Linked DNA regions of Homo sapiens: all the other regions are linked to region 1. The links come from fine-mapping of genetic effects on gene expression. A gene starts in region 1. Each other region holds a variant in brackets. All regions are shown on one strand. Distances are from middle to middle.

Region 1 (6,475 bases):
AAACCAAGCAGCCACTCCGCAGGTCATAGGAGGAGGAGACTCAATTCATATATAAATCAAAATTCATGAAGCATAAGTGAAACATTAAAGCCAATAACTTCAAATCCTAAAAATGCTATTTCCACCCCACAGTTGGTAACGCCCAAAACATGCACAATAAGCATAAGACTGAACAATAGAAACCTGGAAAACCGTTCAGTACACTTAAATGCCCATCACAGTGATTCATGATAAACTCTCATCAAGGCTACTTATTGCCATAAATAAATACCCTACCTATACTTATTCCCTCAACCACCAGCTTCCCAGTTACATCTATAACATACTCAAATAAATCTTTTCTTTTTTTTCCCCCCACCAAAAACAGGAGTTTTGTCACCCAGGCTAGAGCACAGTGGTGAGAGCACGGCTCACTGCTGCCTCGACCTCCCGGACTCAAGTGATCCTCCCTCCTCAGGCTCCCGAGTAGCTAGGACTACTGGCATGCACCACCATGCCTGGCTAATTTTTAAAATTTTTTTGTAGAGATGGGGTGTCACTATGTTGCCCAATCTGGTCTCAAACAGCTGGGTTCAAGTGATTCCCCCCCACCTCGGCCTCCCAACGTGTTGGGATTACAGGCATGGACCACTGTGTTCAGCCTCAAAGCAATCTTTATTTGTATTCACACTATTATCAGTTCCCTTCTCTTAATCTTCTCTCCAGCCAGCCAATCTTTACCTCTTCGCTTCTTCCAAATGACAAAGGTACTCATAAGCCACGTTCTGACGTCTCCTTTCATCCATCTCCTCTGCAGTAAGTCTTTCATTATCCAGGACAGCTACAACATAAAAGAAAGAATGTAAACACCAGGATCTGTAGCCTTCCTGAGTGATAAAAGATTGCCACAGAATCAATTTCCTGCCACTCACCTAGAAAGTCAGGATAACTAATGAGTGTGTAGCCAGCCAGGTGTACTACAATGACTTTCTTAAAAAAAGAACTATGTGGTTTCAACTATAATCATCTTGACCTTTTTAAAAATGTATGATAATATAAATATGTACTAAGTTTCAGTGTAATCTTGAAAAATACTGTCTTGAGATTTTGGCACAAATCTGTCCCTATCTGCCAGAACTCCTTCTAAATACAGATCTGATAATATTGTTTCCCTCTTTTATTAATGACCAAAGCCAGCAGTTATTGAGACATAAGTGGCAGTAATTGTACGAAGCATTTTACACGCATTCTCTCATTGAAACCCCACAACAATCCTGTGATTATCACTCCTATTTTACAGACGAAGAAACTGAGGCTGGGTGAACTCAGCCCCATGGCAAATAAGTGACAGGGCCTGAATCCAAACCTGGAGAGTCTGTCTCCAAAGCCTGAGCTTAACCTTGAAGCAATCTGCTTCCTTCATGGGCACCAGGTGTGGAATAAATTCCTAACTCCTTGGGAAGGCATTCAAGGCCTTTCCCAGTCTGGTCCCAACTATTTTTGGAAACTCTCCTCTTCCCTTCCTCCCACCACTGTGCAGTCTACATCACTCAGTTCCCAACACAGTATCCCTCTACTTTCAATACCTTTGTTTATGCTCTTCCCTCAGGTCCTGTCTCTTGTTCCACATGCCCTATCAAACTTTTTTTTTTTTTTTTTTGAGACAGGGTCTTGTTCTGTCACTCCGGCTCGAGTGCAGTGGCACAATCATGGCTTACTGCAGCCTCGACTTTCTGGGCTCAAATGATCCTCCTACCTCAGCCCCAAGCAGCTGGGACCACAGGCATGGGCCACCACGCCTGGCTAATTTTTTTTTTTTTTTTTAAGAGATGGAGTCTCACTGTGCTGCCCAGGCTGGTCTCAAACTCAAGGCCTCAAACTATCCTCTCACCTCGGACTCCCAAAGTGCTGGGATTACACGCAGGAGTCACTATGCCTGGCCACCTGTCAAACTTTCTACACAGCATTCTTCAAGGCTCTGTTCAAATGTCACCTTCAGGCCAGGTGCAGTGGCTCACACTTTGGGAGGTCGAGGCGTGGGGATCATTTGAGATCAGGAGTTTGAGACCAGCCTGACCAACACAGTGAAACCCTGTCTCTACTAAAAATACAAAAATTAGCCAGTGTGGTGGCCGACGCCTGTACTCGGGAGACTGCAGGAGAATCGCTTGAACCTGGGAGGTGGAGTTTGCAGTGAGCTGAGATTGCACCACTGAACTCCAGGCTGGGCGACCAGAGCAAGACCCCCTGTCTCCAAAAAAAAAAAAAAAAAAGTCACCTCCCGTGCTCATACTGTCTTCCCCAGGCCCCTTCTCCTTACCTACATTACTCTGTATGGCTAGTAAGTTCAGCATCTTTTATCATTATTGCACCTTATAATCATTAGCTTGCACACCTGACTCTCTGATTAAAACGCTCTTTGGAGACAGGGCCTGATCTTACTCATCTTTAATTTCACAAACGTGGCACAATACCTCACGTATAACTGTTGATGCGTGAAATGTTGATCCTTTAAAAAAGAACATTATTCCCACAATATAAAATAAAACCGAAAACCTCAAAATCCCAAAGGGTCCTCCTTTAGCCAATCCTGCCTGCAGTTCAATGACGTCCAGGGCCGACAACAGAAAATGAGGAAGTCAGAGGATTTTCTGCTTCTTTTTTTTTTCTTTATTACTATTTTACTTTTGAAATCTTGAGGAGGGAACTAAGCCCGAGAAAACTGAAGTGACTTGCCCAGGACGGCACCTCGTAGCTAGCCTGGGACCGGACAGGTCTGGACCCTGGTCTATCCCTTGGGTCTACCCCGCAGGCAACACTAGGGCAGCGCCTTTCCACGAAACGGGCAGAGCCCGCGTACCCAGACCCCCAATCCCCGGGACACGCCCTGCGCGGTCATCCTGCCACCTCACTCTAGGCCGTCTTCCCCAATCTCGGCCGAGCCTGGGCGGCGAGAGGCGCTGGGTGGGGCTCCCCCTACCGCGGCCCCAGCTAAGGCGGGAGGCCTCGGGGGTCCTCTCCGCCGCCTCGGACCCCGAGGGGGCGCGAACCAGGGGCCTCCCCGCCCGCCGCCCGCCGCCCCACCGGGACGGCTCTTCCGGGTCCGAGCTGCCGGCAGCCGCCCTGCCCCACCCGCCCGGCCGAGCCCCCAGGAAAATCGCGCCTCGTCTGCAATTAGCCCAGCCCGAAGCCCCCGCGCCGCGGAGCCCCGCACTCACAGCCATAGTGCGGCCGGGCCACGCCCAGCCCGTCAACCTCGTCTGCGGCGGACATGGCGGACGAGCCCGAGTCTCTGCTGAGGAAGCCGTGAAACCTTGGAGGCGCGGACGGCGGTAGCTACAGCTCCTGCCAAGTGCGCGGGCTTGCCGGGGTCCCCGAGGCCCCGCCCCGTGCCGTCAGCCCCACCCCGCAGGCCCCGCCCCAGCGGCACCGCCCCAGCGACACCGCCCTGAGCGGCCGGAAAGAGGCGGGGCCAGAGTCACCGTGCCCCGCCCCTAACTCCGCCCCCTCAGCCCGGCCCCGCCCTGCATCCCGCTATGGTCTCCGTAGGCGGAAGGAAGAAGGTAGAGCCCATCCTCCAATCGGGCTCACGCTGAGCTTGCCCTGCCGGGAATGCCCGCCCAGGTTTATAGCCCCGCCCCCAAGGCCACTGCCCTATCCGCAACTCTAACCGAAAGGCTGCCGGTGTCTGCTGCCTGAAATCAAAATAGTGGGTCATCTCCCTTCTCTTGCCGGCCCAGCTAACCTCTGCACCAATATTTGGAGAAGACACCCTTTGAGGTGACCCAGGTTGTCTTGTTGGACACAAGCAGGCCCCAAACTGCCATGAAAGCCCTCCAACCCCACTCTCCGCAGTTTGGCAACCTGGCCTCAGTCCTCTTAGATTCGGCAGCAGTCACCAGATTACCCAGGTACCCAGGTATTTGAGATGCGGATGCTAAAGCCGAACTCTGTCCAAATTCCCTACCTTTGGATCCCTTGACATTGTTCTTTGCAAGTTCTTTTTAAAATAACTCTTTTCCCGTATCAGGGATGCCTCTGCCCCCTGCACCTTGTGGCTTGCCCTTCAGATATTGGTATTCAACGGTATTCTGTCCGCAGCCCTCTTCTGTTTATTCTTTTTTCTTTTCTTTCTTTCTTTTTTTTTATTTTCTTTTTTTTTTGAGACGGAGTCTCGCTCTGTCGCCCAGGCTGGAGTGCAGTGGCGCGATCCGGGCTCACTGCAAGCTCCGCCTCCCGGGTTCGCGCCATTCTCCTGCCTCAGCCTCCCGAGTAGCTGAGTCTACAGGCACCCGCCACCGCGCCCGGCTAAGTTTTTGTATTTTTAGTAGAGACGGGGTTTCACCGTGTTAGCCAGGATGGTCTCGATCTCCTGACCTCGTGATCCACCCGCCTCGGCCTCCCACAGTGCTGGGATTACAGGCGTGAGCCACCGCGCCCGGCATTTTTTTTTTTTTTTTTTTTTTGAGACGGAGTTTTGCTCAGTCGTTCAGGCTGGAGTGCAGTGGCGCGATCTCGGCTCACTGCAACCTCCGCCTCCCGGGTTCAAGCGACTCTCCCGCCTCAGCCTCCCAAGTAGCTGGGATTATAGGTGCCCGCCACCACGCCCAACTACTTTTTTTGTATTTTTAGTAGAGGCAGGGTTTCACCATGTTGATCAGGCTGGTCTCGAACTCCTGACCTCAGGTAATCCACCCGCTTCTGCTTCCCAAAGTGCTGAGATTACAGGTGTGAGCCACCGCGCCCGGCCCTCTTCCGTTTATTCTTTGCCTACTCAGTAATCTTTTCTACACTCGCCTATAACTGCTGAGGACCCCTCGATATGTATCACCAGACCAGATCGTCTGGAAGTCCCTCAGTATTTTCAGCTAATGAACACTTTCACCTGTGTATAGGGCAGACACTTCAAATCCCACGTGTCAAATACTGACCCTGCTCCTGCTATATTCTCTATTCACAGAAGTACTCAATTCCCAGTGGGAACACCCCAGGCTCCTTGCCTCGCACCCTACATCCAATCTGTGTTTATTTCTGAGATGTCTACTTTTGTCTCCATCCCTGTTGTGATTACACTGTAGTCGCCCTTCTGCCAACTAGATCCTCACAGTTATCAGGGTGTTCTCTCTAAAGTGCAAATGCAATTGTGTTTCTCTTTTTAAATTTTTTTTTCTATTCCTCCCTTCAAGATAATGGGCCAAGTTCAGCATGATTTAGCATGCCAAATCATAGCCTGACTCCAGATGTTTTGCTCCAGCTATTTTCAATGTATTCACTCTTCCTTCAGACTATTAAAGATACTTGAAAACCTGTAAGAACAAAACACCCCTGTAGAAAAGTGGGCAAGGGTTTCATTTATTAAGCCTACAAAGTAAAAAGTTATTTCATTCTTAAGCTTTTAAGTTCACTTTACAAATTGTATTATTCTATTTATAAGTCTAGCACATTTTACCAAACACTTTTCAGAAACTGAATGATTTATTTATTTCGGAGGCGGGGGGGTCACATTTTTATTGGGGGCCACAGGGGACATGGTCTTCTCCATGTCAATGGAAGTGCTTGCAGTTTCTTCAACCACTCCATGCTTGGGCCTTGGGGGTGGCTGGGCATGTCCAGCATGTTCCCATCATCTCGGAGGGGCACTGGGTTGTTGTGGGGCGTGGCCTAGTTGATCCTGGTGGAGTACATGGTATAGGGGCAGACTGGGGTCAGATTTATAGCTAGGCCCCCGATGGTGAGGAACAGGACCAGCACCCGCTCCTTAGGCCAGGCATTCTTGAGAAAGGCAGCCGCAATGGCAACGAGGACATAGAGCATTCTGAAATTTCCTGAAAATTTTTTTTTAAGTCTCACTCAGTTAATTCAACATCTTCAAATATTTAAAATTATGCCTACTAGGGCAGGCACAGTGGCTCACACCTGTAATCCGAGCACTTTGGGAGGTCAAGGTGGGTGGATCACCTTAGGTCAGGAGTTCGAGAGCAGCCTGGCCAACATGGTGAAACCCCCGTCTCTACTAAAATACAAAAAAATTAGCTTAGTATGGTGACACACGCCTGTAGTCCCAGCTACTCGGGAGGCTAAGGCAGGAGAATCACTTGAACCCAGGAGGCAGAGGTTGCAGTGAGCCGAGATTGTGCTCCTGCAATCCAGCCTGGTTGACGGAGCGAGACTGTCTTTTAAAAAATAATAATAATTGCCGGGCACGGTGGCTCACGCCTGTAATCCTAGCACTTTCGGAGGCCGAGGTGGGCGAATCACGAGGTCAGGATATTGAGACCATCCAGGCTAACACGGTGAAACCCCAGCTCTATTAAAAACACAAAAAAAAAAAAAATTAGCCGGGCATGGTGGCGGGCACCTGTATTCCAGCTACTCGGGAGGCTGAGGCAGGAGAATGGCGTGAACCCTGGAGGCGGAGCTTGCAGTGAGCCAAGATCATGCCTCTGCACTCTAGCCTAGGCAATAGAGCGAGACTCCATCTCAAAAAAATAAATAA
Region 2 (6,475 bases), 73 kb before region 1:
AAGATGCCTGTAAGGTCTTTACAGAGAGCATCAATTCAGCAGATTACTGGGGCAATCTTCTCTAGAAAAGACAAGGCACTTCAGGTTTTAAAGTGGCCAGGTTGTGAGAGTCATGTTTGTGGTGATCTACGCAGACCCAACAAAATTAACATACTCCTGAGGCTTGAGCTAACAGCAGTTGGTATAAATAGCAGCTCAAAAATTCATTTAGATTGCTCGATGTGAATATAATTTGCCAAGGCATGAATGAGGCAGAATAAAGAACTTAGTAAATCACCATAACTATGTGCCTAAATGAGGCAGGGTCTGAGCTTTGAGGCAAAGTGAAACGTTTCACTGCCCAACAGTTGAAGTCACAAAACCTTAGGGAAGGCTTGGCTTTCCTCCTGTTTTATTAGAGAAAGACACAACATTTCACTCCATATAGTGAAGCAGCCACAATCCCTGCAATTTATAAAGAGTGCAGGTGACAGGATAAGGCCAAAGGAAAGCATCTGAAATTGAAAGCAGTGATTTCTCTTAAATGCAGTCTTTTAGAAAGATCATTTAACCTAATTATGGTAGGTGCTGGCCTTACAATTCTAAGAGGCACTGTCCCAATTTTAAGAAGCTCACAGTCTTGGGAAAGGGAAAGAGTAAACAGATAAATAGAATGCAAGAACAAATAAATCACTTAAAAGCTGCAGAACCTAGTACCTTCCTACCACTAGTCGCTTTCTATTACTGAAAATAGAAAATGACCACACACCATCCCCTAGAGTCCTAAGAATAACTACTGGAAATACTAGACAATAGTTCCAATGTGAGACAATACAATGAGTCAGCTGCAGGCTTGTGACAACTTAAATTGTGAAGTCATAAGCGAGAGGGCTGATGGTCTAGTCTCCAAGAGAAGCAGCAGAAAAATCCTCGTATCATAAAAACAGAAGCATTTCCACAGAATCAAGCCATTTTGGGTTCACTTCTGGGATAATCATACAACAGATATCTGAGCAGAATCTGCTGTAAGCAAAGTTGTGAGACTTAGCACAACCTCCCTTGCATTGAGAAAGGTAGAACCTTTCTAAGCATTCAGAATTCTTTCTTCCCTGCCCCATGCAGATTAAAGTAAAACCTTTCATACATACTCCTTAAGAAATAAGCAATAGAGCAATAGTATGAAAGGCAAGAAAAAGTGAATGGATGGGTGTCTCAGGTGTTTCAGGGAAACATTAATACAGAAAAGCCCCTCACCAGAATGAAGAAGGAAAGAGAGACAGCATACACTACACCTCATCCCAGTGTAAGAAGAAAGAACAGGTTCTTTCTGCTCCAATTAGACTGAATAAAATGACAAAACCCAAATCCTTCTGGTAAAATTTGTTTTAAAGAGATTACCTAAAGATTAACTCAAATGACTGAGCAGAGTGTTAAAGCCCAGGCTAGATATTATGGAGAGAAAACAGATTTGCTGTAAAAATGCTATCTAAGATATATTCAAGCACAGCTCCCTAACAACTCTGACACTTAGAAACACGCTGATTGCATTTCAGAAGAGGTAAAGAGATAGGGACCAGAAGTCAGAATTTAAAAAAAGAGTGGGCAATGATTGGAGGTAGAAGAGGTGAAGAAGCCACAAACACAGGAAAAGGGGGAAGAGGCAAAGGAATGACTATGTTATGTACATGTATATATGGAAAGCACACACTCACACACCCCTCTAAAGGGCACTTCTCATCACTCAAAACTTTTTAAAAAGACTTTACTTACTATGTGGCTTGGTTTGCATGTGTGATGATAGACCCAATATTACATATATAAATATATAACCACATATATACCACATACACACATAAACACACATACACAAATCTGTACAACACGTTTATCAACTACACAACATAAGCACTGACCAATCAGGATGGAGCAGAGTCCTTATGGTCACTGCTGGTTTAGTTGCCATATAGTGGGATTTCAATTAGAGTTGGGGAGTGATGGCAAAGATATGGGAGGGTTGGGACAGTAACAATGTACCAAACAAAATAAAAGAATTTCAATGTCCTAACAACTGGTACAGCTGTGCTGGTGTGAACCAGCTGATTACTAGCTACATGTATATAAGCATGTGTGCATAAGTGCATATACACACATGGAGGTCAGAGAGAGATTTAAGTCATTCTTTTTTTTTGAGACAGAGTCTCGCTCTGTCGCCCAGACTGGAGTGCAGTGGCCCGATCTTGGCTCACTGCAAGCTCCACCTCCTGGGTTCATGCCATTCTCCTGCCTCAGCCTCCCGAGTAGCTGGGACTAAAGGCGCAGGCGCCTACCACCATGCCGGGCTAATTTTTTTTTTTTCTTTTTTTTTTTTTTTTGTGTTTTTAGTAGAGATGGGGTTTCACTGTGTTAGCCAAGATGGTCTTGATCTCCTGACCTCGTGATCCACCTGCCTCAGCCTCCCAAAGTACAAAGATTACAGGTGTAAGCCACCGCACCCAGCCGATTTAAGTCATTCTTATTCTTTCTTCCTTTTTGAGATGCAGCTTCGCTGTCACCCAGGCTGGAGTGCAGTGGTATGATCTCAGCTTACTGCAACCTCCTACTCCCGGGTTCAAGCAATCCTCCTGCCTCAGCCTCCTGAGTAGCTGGGACTACAGGGGTGTACACCACACCTGTATTTTTAGTAGAGATGGAGTTTCGCCATGTCAGCCAGGCTGGTCTCAAACTCCTGACCTCAAGTGATCCGCCTGCCTTGACCTCCCAAAGTGCCGGGATTATAGGCGTAAGCCACCACACACGGCCTAAGTCATTCATATTCTTAATTATAAAATGAGTTCTTGAGGAGCCCTGATATCCATGTCTTGCATTCAGACTGTACTACTCACGACTAGTAATCCACTTTTATCAAGAGTCCCACAAACACTAAATTTAATGAAGAGAAACGTGACATTAGTGAAAATGGTAAAGACCTCTGAAAATCCTCTCCACCATGAAAAACAAACAAACAAAAAACATTGGTACACTGGCAAACAATCACCAGCATCAGTTTTTCTTT[TTTTG/G]AGACGGAGTTTCACTCTTGTCACCCAAGCTGGAGTGCAGTGGTGCTCATTGCAACCTCCACCTCCTGGGTTCAAGTGATTCTCCTGCCTCAGCCTCCTGGGTAGCTGCGATTACAGGTGCCTGCCACCACGCCTGGCTAATTTTTTGTATTTTTAGTAGAGATGGAGTTTCACCATGTTGGCCAGGCTGGTCTCGAACTCCTGACCACAGGTGATCTGCCCACCTGGGACTCCCAAAGTGCTGGGATTACAGGGATGAGGCACTGCGCCCAGCCCTTTTTTTTTTTTTTTTTTTTTTTTAAAGACAGGGTCTTGCTTTGTCACTCAGGCTGGAGTGCAGTGGTGCAATCTTGGCTCACCGCAACCTCAGCCCCCTAGGCCCAAGTGATCCTTCCATCTCAACCTCCCAAGTGCCTGGGACCACAGGTGCACACCACCGTGTCCAGCTAATATTTTTATTTTTCGTTAAGACAGGGTTTTACCATCTTGCCCAGCCTGGTCTCAAATTCCTGGGCTCAAACTATCCACCCGCCTTGGCATCCCAACGTGCTGGGATTACAAGCATGAGCCACTGCACCCGGCCAGTTTTTTCAATACGGTAGAAATTAACCAAAGGCTTGCAGAAATTGGAGAATGCATTCAAGAAAAACAGCTGAAACTCAGTAAGAACAGTGAGTTCTGTGGTGCTTTAAACTCCCCTATTCCAATCTGCCCCTCCTACCATCCCTTCAAAGCCCCATTCCCAAAGAACTGTCATTAGCTGACCTGTTCAGAGGTCACACTCGCATGGCTGTCTTTATTTGACCTGACCAAGAGCTCATCCACTGCAAACAGCCTTTTCTCCAAAAGCAATTGTCAAAAACATTAAGGATAACAGTTTAGGCAAACAAGAGACTAACTAAAAACCTTATAAGGAAAAGCTGGAGAATGAGATGTTCATGGAGAGCTCTGACAACTTGACATATTCCTGGATGGGATCTAGGAGGCCACAGTGCATGTGTGGGCTGTGCACATGCTCAGAAAAGATCTGATAAAGCTCTTGTTTAGCATATCATCATGAAATATAAAATGGGCAACCAGCGGCCCTCAGGGCTGCTCTGTCTATGGAGAAGCCATTCTTTTATTCCTTTACTTTCTTAATAAACTTGCTTCCACTTCACTCTATGGACTCTCTCTGAATTCTTTCTTGTGTGAGATCCAAGAACCATCTCTTGGGGTCTGCATCGGGACCCCTTTCCTACACAGTACTGCAGCTCAAAACAAAACAAAAAATATCCCCCACACAAAAAACTCCGGACCACGTGGCCTCACTGGTGACTTGTAACAAATGTTTAAAGAACTAGCTAATCCTTTACAAACTCTTTGAAAATATAAAAGGAACACTTCAAGTCATGAGGCCAGTATTACCCTGATACCAAAACCAAACACAAAGATATCAGAAGAAAATAAAACTACAGACCAAATTTAAATTAAGATCTTTTGCTCTCTAAATTTGTAACTCAGTGATAAATATTTTTAAAAACACTCCCAAATGGCTGATGGAGACTTAGATGCTCAGGTGATGCCAAAAACAAAAAACAAAACAAAACAAAACAAAAAACCCAAACCAAAAACAAACAAACAAAAAACAATTCCACCCAATGTGTAGTTCACCCAGCTGGGCCTGGCAATGTTAAGCAATTTTTCCTTTAACTCCCCCGACTTCCTCCGCCTTTGATGAAGTCTGAAAAGTTATTCCACAGCAAAGGAAATGCTTCAAACTCTATAGTCACATCCTCAAAAAGTTTTACTCCGATGACCCAAACAAAACGCACACACAGCCTTTTGAATTATTTACACTTTATCTATTCCTGACTTGATAGACATACTGTTTTTTTCCACTGTGGCTATCAGGAATAATGCTACTATGAAGATAAAGTTGTTAAAGTAATTGTAACATAAACTCATCTTTTAAAATGTTTGTCTTACCCGCTACCTAGTTTGCTGAGGAAATTGACAAGGTTTATGCCTCTTTTTATGCTGTTGCTGTCTAGGAAGTTGCCTTGTATGTAGTAGGCCCTCAAATAATTGTTGATTAAAGCATAATTAACATCTGTTTTCTAATTGTGATTGACCTCCTTTTCAGTGCTTACTAAGTAACAACAACTGGATAGAACCATAGCCTTCAGAAGACTCCTGAAGTGAGGCAGCAAGCGGAAGGGCTAAAAGAAATTTTTAATTCTGAGTAGCCAGACGTATAAAAACAGACCAAGGCTTTAGTGTATTGGAGCTTTTTGCACACTGACACTCGTGTGGGCTCTGTAAGTTTTGGTGAAGGGTAGAGGAGTGGGCAATTTTATATGTTGGTAATATTATGATGTTGACTGATCTCCTTTGATTACATTGGCATGGCAGTAGTTGACATTACCATGTCCTAATCATGTAAGTGTAGTATCTGATAGATACTACCAGGTTTCATTTAAGAGATATAATTATGCAGAATGTCACTTGATGCTGTGGAGAGGGTTGAATCACAACTGCTATTTCATAGCCAGGAAATTGAGATCAACTGATTTTACTTACTCGGATAAGAAGTAGTTGGCTCTAGGGAAGCTAGAAATGGAAGTCTCTGTCTTTGATTCATTTTATTAGATTAGTGTTTCCCAAACTTGGCTGGTCATCAGAACAATGAAAAAGTCATTTTTAAAATACAGATTCCTAAGCTTAAAGTCTAATTCTACTGATTCAGAATCTCTAATGTGTCAGGCTGCAATGATTCTATGTATGCTAGTGGTAGTAATGTTTGTTTTTGCTGCTAAGAAAGTCCAAAGGGAGCCTTATATCTGACTGTCAGAGGAGTGGGGTTTCGGAGAATAAGCTAGGTCGGCTTCCATATCTAAAAAGGGAAGTAGATTGAAGATACAACTTATATAGCTGTCACTCATGCTAAGTGTCTATCAAATCACGAATAAAGTGCAAATAATTCATATGTCATCAACTCATGAATGGATAAATAAAATGTGGTAAAGTGGAAATAATCCATGTGTCATCAACTCATGAATAAATAAATAAAATGTGGTACAGTCATACAATGGAATATTATTCAGCAACAAAAAGAAATGAAGTGCTACTGCTACAGCTTGGATAAACTAAGCTAAAAGAAGCCAGTCACAAACGACCATACATTGCATAACTCCATTTATATGAAATGTTCAGAATAGACAAACCCATAGACAAACCAGCAGTCTGATGGTTGCCCAGGGCTGGGGGAGATTAAGGGAAAATGAGTGACTACTAATGGGTACTGAGTTTCTCTTGGGGTGATGAAATGTTCAAAAATTGACTGTGGTGATGACTGCACAATTCTATCAACGTACTAAAGTCCACTGACGCTGAATTACCTGATACGTGAATTACGTTTCAATTAAGTTGTCACAAAAAACCTTCATGACATTATCTAT
Region 3 (6,475 bases), 36 kb before region 1:
AAACCAACCAACCAACCAACAACAAAAAAAACCCACTGAACATATAAGTCTTTTTGTTTAAGGAAAGTTTCTGTTTATGATGTTAATTTTGGCTGAGTACCTATACCGTTCCTTGTTTTCCCTTGAATTTAAACATAAAACATAAAAATTATCTCTTTGACATTGTAGCCTTACTCATTCTGAGTTTGGGCCCAGTTATTACAGCTGACCACCCTTACATTTGGTCTTGGTAATGCAATTCTCCACTATCTTTCATAGTCATCATTTTTCAAATAAGGATTCACAGGTAACCTCTGTAGACAAGAAAATTTGGTCCTTGTCAACATCCCCATTTTTTTTTTGGGAGACAGAGTCTTGCTCTGTTGCCCAGGCTGGAGTGCAGTGGTGCTATCTCAGCTCACTGTAACCCCCGCCTCCTGGGTTCAAGTGATTCTCCTGCCTCAGCCTCCTGAGTGGCTGGGATTACAGGTGTGCGCCACCAAGCCTGGCTAATTTTTATATTTTTAGTAGAGATGGGGTTTCACCAAGTTGGCCGGGTTTGTCTTGAACTCCTGACCTCAAGTGATCCGCCCGCCTCAACCTCCCAAAGTGCTGGGATTACAGGCATGAACTACTGGGCCTGGCCCAACATTCCAACTTAATTAAGCAGTCAGTCTTCTTTTTTATAGCACCTTGAGATACAGGAATCAAACCCTCTCACTTATCTCAATTTTCTGAAACTGAATCACTTTCCCATTGTACCTTGAACTCCAGCAACGCAGGGTGATGTTTTTTCATGAAGTTACTTTTGCATTCAATTTGCCAACAAATCTCAGTGCTTAAAATTCATTTCTTTTTTTAAGAGACAGGTGGGAGTGCAGTGGCGCAATACTAACTCCCTACAGCCTCAACCTCCTAGGCTCAAGCAATCCTCTTGCCTCAGTCTCCCAAGTAGCCAGGACTACAGCATGTGTGACCATGTCTGGCTAATTTTTTTTTTTGTAAGACAGGGTCTCATTATATTGCCCAGGCTACTCTCAAACTCCTGGTCTTAAGTGATCCTACCACCTTGGCCTTCCAAGTACTGGGATTACAGGTGAGAATCAGTGTGCCCAGCCTAAAATTAGGCTTTCTTTTTTTTTTTTTTTTTGAGATGGAGTCTCACTCTGACACCCAGGGCTGGAGTGCAGTGTCATGATCTCGGCTCACTGCAACCTCTGCCTCCCGGGTTCAAGCGATTCTCCTGCCTCAGCCTCCTGAGTAGCTGGGATTACAGGCATGCACCACCACGCCCGGCTAATTTTTGTATTTTTGGTAGAGACGGGGTTTCACCATGTTGGTCAGGCTGGTCTCGAACTCCTGACCTTGTGATCCGCCCACCTCAGCCTCCCAAAGTACTGGGATTACCGGCGTGAGCCACCGCGCCCGGCCCCAAAACTAGATTTAAAGTGGTAATTCCCCTAGTTATTTCTTCTACCTTCTAAAGAATTAAAAAATTCATCTACAACTAGGAAAATTTCTAGATATATAACATCATAAGAATTCTACCAGAAACAAAGACAGCTAAAGTTCTTTTCCTAGTACATATTTTTTTGTGGGGGGACAGGGTAGGGGGGAGGCGGGCTTTCCAGATAAATTCTAAAAGAGATGTAATAATATTTGCCTAGTACATATTGCCTTTGCACAAATTTCTCCATTCTGCCAGGCATTTTAAAGGCTATAATTTGTTGCAACAAACACACCTTACACAGACTTCTCAATAACTCTTACACAAAATAAAACATGCTAACTTTCTCAAGTTGACAGAAATCTAAGCACAAAGCAAGGAAGGACTCACCTTGTATCTGGTCTGTTCTCGATCATAGATTTTTTTCAGGGACACTACTTTGGGAGAGAAGAAGTTCCCCAGTTTGGCAAGGTAGACCCCATTCCTAAGCCCCTCCTCCAGTTCTGTGGTGGGAGGCAGATCTTCCCCTAGGCATGCTTCCATCCACCTGCACCAAAGGAGAGAGGATGCAAAAAAAGAAAGGGAAGGTCAGAACTTTTCCTTAGAGATTTTAAGCTTTATTTCCATTCTCCTTGGAGAAGCTTAAACTGAACATAATAGCACTCTTTTACAATCAGTTCCACACACATCCTTTCCCTGCCTGGCCCAGTCAGATCTCAGAGGCGGGGAACTTAGGAAAATTCCTGAGCATAAATGCCACTTTCTTCTCCACCCCACTTTCCTCTGCTGCAGCAACACAGCCAGCTGGCTCCCCAGATCCTGACTGCTCCCAGAACCTCAGACCCTTTCCCTCAGTCCTTAAGTTGCTCTTTAACAAATCCTAAGAAAAGCCATTGGTAACTGAAGCCACCATTTCAACTGTTCAGAAGCTTTAATTTGTTGCTGACATTCTCTTCCAGTTGCAGAACTCAGAATCCACAGTGAATTTCTAGGTCCAAGTTTTAAGGTTGCTTGGGGGTTATCAAAACAGACTCAATTATTTCAGCTAAAATATTAAAAGAAACTCCTATGGAAGCAGTAAATAATGAATTCTCAGATTTTTGGAGGCAGGGAGGAGGTTGTAAAAAGGATAGGAAAAGAAAACTATTTTCCAAAAAGAAAAAGAATAAAACAAAGAAAAAAAGAAAACTGTATTTTCCCCTTCAAATATCTCTTAGTACATTTCAAGAAAGCCTAAGATAAAACAAAGGAAAGTTTAGTTACATGTATTTTCTACCAACGGAAACATAGGTAACTAAAGATCATTTATGGCAATGGTTTTTTTTTCCTTTTCTTCTTTTTTCTTTTGAGACAAAGTCTCACTCTATTGCCCAGCCTGGAGTGCAGTGGCATGATCTCAGCTCACTGCAACCTCCGCCTCCCGGGTTCAAGCAATTCTCCTGCCTCAGCTTCCTGAGTAGCTGGGACTCCAGGCATGCACCACCATGCCCAGCTAATTTTTGTATTTTTAGTAGAGACGGGGCTTCGTCATATTGACCAGGCTGGTCTCAAACTCCTGACCTCAAGTGATCCGCCCACCTCAGCCTCCCAAAGTGCTGGGATTACAGGTGTGAGCCACTGGACCCGGACCATGGCAACAGTTTTCAACCACTGAGCCACAGAATCCTGTGAATATCGAAGGAAAGCTATAGAACCTTCCCCTGGAAAAATATACATATACTTAAATTTTACATGTAATTTCAGAGACTTCATTGACTCTAGGAACCCTAGATTTAAAACTCCTAATTTAAAATTATTTCACTCAATTTTTTTTTTTTTAAGTTGGAGTCTCACTCTGTTGCCCAGGCTGGAGTGCAATGGTACAATCTCAGCTCACTACAACCTCTGCCTCCTGGGTTCAAGCAATTCTCCTGCCTCAGCCTCCCGAGTTGCTGGGATTACAGGCCTGTGCCACCACACCTGGCTAATTTTTTGGTATTTTTAGTAGAGATGGGGTTTCACCATATTGGTCAGGCTGGTCTTGAACTCCTGACCTCAGGTGATCCACCCACCTCGGCCTTCCAAAGTGCTGGGATTACAGGCGTAAGCCACCGTTCCCAGCTCAGTCTTGCTTTTAAATCTACTCTACCTTTAAATTAGGCAGCGTACTCTCTAACACATGAAGCCTGATGGGTATA[T/A]GAATGGGCCAGATAATTTTCTGGTTGTTTCCTATACTCGATGATAAGCTTCTCTGCTGTCTTTTCTTTCTTTCAAATAGTAGAACTTAAATTGTCAGAAAGGGGAAAAATGAAACAAATGAGTTTTCCAGAAGAGTTGTCATAATAAATGAGATACCAATTTGAAATGGCTACAAAAATCTAAACTATACCTCTATTCAGCCTAAAGATGCAAAGGGCAATGTGGAAAAGATTGGCAGTTGTCGGTACGGAAAATAGTGTAGTTCAAGGACACATCTCATCTTTTTACTGCTAAAAAGGATGTTGATAAAATCATTCTGGCAAACAACTACTGGCAACTCCAGCTCTCAGGGGACAATCTAACTTGGGTTCTCATTAACAGTGAAAACCTAACAACCTCAGCCTAAGCCAAAAATGGCCCTCAAGCACGTAACAGTACCAAAAAAAAAAAAAGTTACTTATTTTTCTTTTTAAAATGAAGTAAACACACAGGGAAAACTACGGATAAAGAGCACAGTAGATACTTTTGCCTTGAATCAGAGCCAGTTACCAGAGGTATTTAGGTTTTCCTCTTTTCTGAGATTTCTAGACAAAAATAAAAGGAGAGCCCATGGTAACATCTCCCAGCATTCTTTATATTTCCTTTCCCTAGTCCAACTGCTATAAAACAGTCCTGACTTAGATGTTTCCTATAGCTGGGTAGAATGCTCTTTATATAACACAGGTGTCAGGTCAGAGAAGAAAGGCCAACTGTGATTTGGTGAAAGTTATTAAACAGAAAGAATGAGCTAGAATAAACAGGGAGGCAAAATACATTGTTTCTAAACAACTGCTCAAACCTGAAGCTGCCTTCCAAGTCACCTCACCACATATGTGGCTTGCCCACCAATCTGAGCTATTTCACAATGGAGTATCACCTGGTTTGTTTATAAAATAAATCAGGACTAGGTAGGATGCAGTGGCTCACACCTGTAATCCCAGCACTTTGGGAGGCCAAGGCAGGCCGAACACTTGAGGTCAGGAGTTCCAGACCAGCCTGGACAACATGGCGAAACCCCATCTCTACTAAAAATACAAAAATTTGCCAGTGTGGTGGTGTGCACCTATAGTCTCAGATACTTGGGAGGCTAAGACAGGAGGATCACTTTAACCTGGGAGGTAGAAGCTGCAGTGAGTTGAGATGGTGGCACTGCACTCTAACTGGGGTGACAAAGTGAAACCCTGTCACAAACGAACAAATCAGGACCAAACTGCTTTGAAAAGTAAAGTGCCATGTTAACATTTTTAATGTTAGCAGAAGTTTGGATTCTACTCGAATTCCAAGATGACACAACAAACACTTCTTTCAGTCTTTCTCTACAGCTCACATGAGATTTCCCCTTCTTCTACTAAATCACAGAATCAGAAAACCTGAGAGCCAGGAAGCAAATGCACTTCTAGGGAAAATCCCTTTGTTTGTTTTTAATATAATATATATCTAAAAATGGCCAGGCACAGTAGCTCACGCCTGTAATCCCAGCACTTTGGGAGGCCAAGGCAGGAGGATTGCTTGAGCCCAAGAGTTCAGGACCAGCCTGGCAACACAGCCAGACCCTGTCTCTACAAAAAATTTAAAAATTAGCCAGGCGTGGTGGCACATGCCTGTAGTCCTAGCTACTTGAGAGGCTGCAGCAGGAGGACCGTTTGAGCCCAGGAGGTCAAGGCTGCAGTGAGTTATGATCGTGCCACCATACTCCAACCTGGGCAACAGAGCAAAACTCTGTCTCAAAAATTATATATACAAACTCTGTCTCAAAAATTATATATATATATATATATACATATATATATATACATATACATATATATATATACATATATATATATATATGAATGAGACAATTATTAAACATTTCTGAAATGTTTATATTTTCCATGTTATTATATAGTTTCTGAAGACTTTAAGTTTACATAAAAATTTAACCAAGTCCTTAATAAGTCACCTATCTTAGACATTTATGTCATTTCTAAATGTTTTCAACCATTAAATAATAGTGCAAGGAATATCTTTGTGCACGGTGTTCTTCTTTATTTAGAATTAATTCCTTAGTAAAGGTCCTTAGAAGTACAACTCCAAAATTAAAAATATAAACATTGAAAAAGAATCTAACTGGCCACAAGCCTGCTCAGAGGCTAATAATCTATTTGCACTTCCTCCCATTTACAAATAAGAATGAGGCTGATCCAAGGTCATCCAATAGCTAGTGGCAAAGATGGAATAACAAGACTGATTGCTAGGTTTAGAATCCTCCTCACAGTATCACTCTTGCTCTCACTATATCACCTGAAAAGCCAAAAGGGGTTGAGCTCCACAGGCTGTCTAAAAAGGGAAAAATCGCAGAAATACCAAGAAGGAAAAAGGCTGGTATCTCTCCACATTCTGCCTACTTTTTAATAATTAAAGGTATTTTAGCTTAACTAAATCCACCAGTGATTCTCAACTTAGACACAAAACCTTTCTTATAAAACTTAAATATTTAGAACCGGTGCAGTGGTTCACGCCTGTAATCCCAGCACTTTGGGAGGCCAACGCGGGTGGATCACTTGAGGTCAGGAATTGGAGAAAAACCTGGCCAACAGGGTGAGACCCCGTCTCTACAAAAAATACAAAAATTAGCCAAGTGTGGTGGAGTATGCCTGCAATCCCAGCCACTACTTGGAAAACTGAGGCATGAGCTGAGATTGCATCACTGCACTCCAGCCTGGGCAACAGCAGAGCAAGTCTCTGTCTTAAAAGACAAACAAACAAACCTGGCTGAATTCATTCTCCTACTGAATACTGTGTTCCAAGTATGGTCTGACCAGCCTGAAATGGAACAGGACTATCACCTTC

Evidence for each region. PIP is the estimated chance that this variant, and not a neighbour inherited with it, causes the effect. A credible set is the group of variants that fine-mapping cannot tell apart.
Region 2: its variant is the best candidate, but not a certain one, in a credible set for the expression of IQGAP1 in whole blood (INTERVAL, PIP 0.74).
Region 3: its variant is the best candidate, but not a certain one, in a credible set for the expression of IQGAP1 in anterior cingulate cortex (GTEx, PIP 0.58).

Annotation. Positions count from the first base shown.
Region 1 is chr15:90,385,119-90,391,593 of GRCh38, reverse strand. It overlaps IQGAP1 (IQ motif containing GTPase activating protein 1), which reads right to left and starts at 3,352. Exons shown (of 38, transcript NM_003870.4): 1 at 3,198-3,352; 2 at 721-820. The coding sequence starts at 3,252. It also overlaps the pseudogene NDUFA3P4. RefSeq lists a silencer at 2,849-3,628.
Region 2 is chr15:90,457,860-90,464,334 of GRCh38, reverse strand. The region is part of intron 15 of IQGAP1 (IQ motif containing GTPase activating protein 1); the gene reads right to left. Among named protein-coding and RNA genes, the nearest start is that of CRTC3, 69 kb to the left of the region's middle. RefSeq lists an enhancer at 653-742. The variant TTTTG/G (reference allele first, on the strand shown) is at 3,032.
Region 3 is chr15:90,421,608-90,428,082 of GRCh38, reverse strand. It overlaps IQGAP1 (IQ motif containing GTPase activating protein 1), which reads right to left. Exons shown (of 38, transcript NM_003870.4): 3 at 1,817-1,973. Among named protein-coding and RNA genes, the nearest start is that of IQGAP1, 37 kb to the right of the region's middle. The variant T/A (reference allele first, on the strand shown) is at 3,604.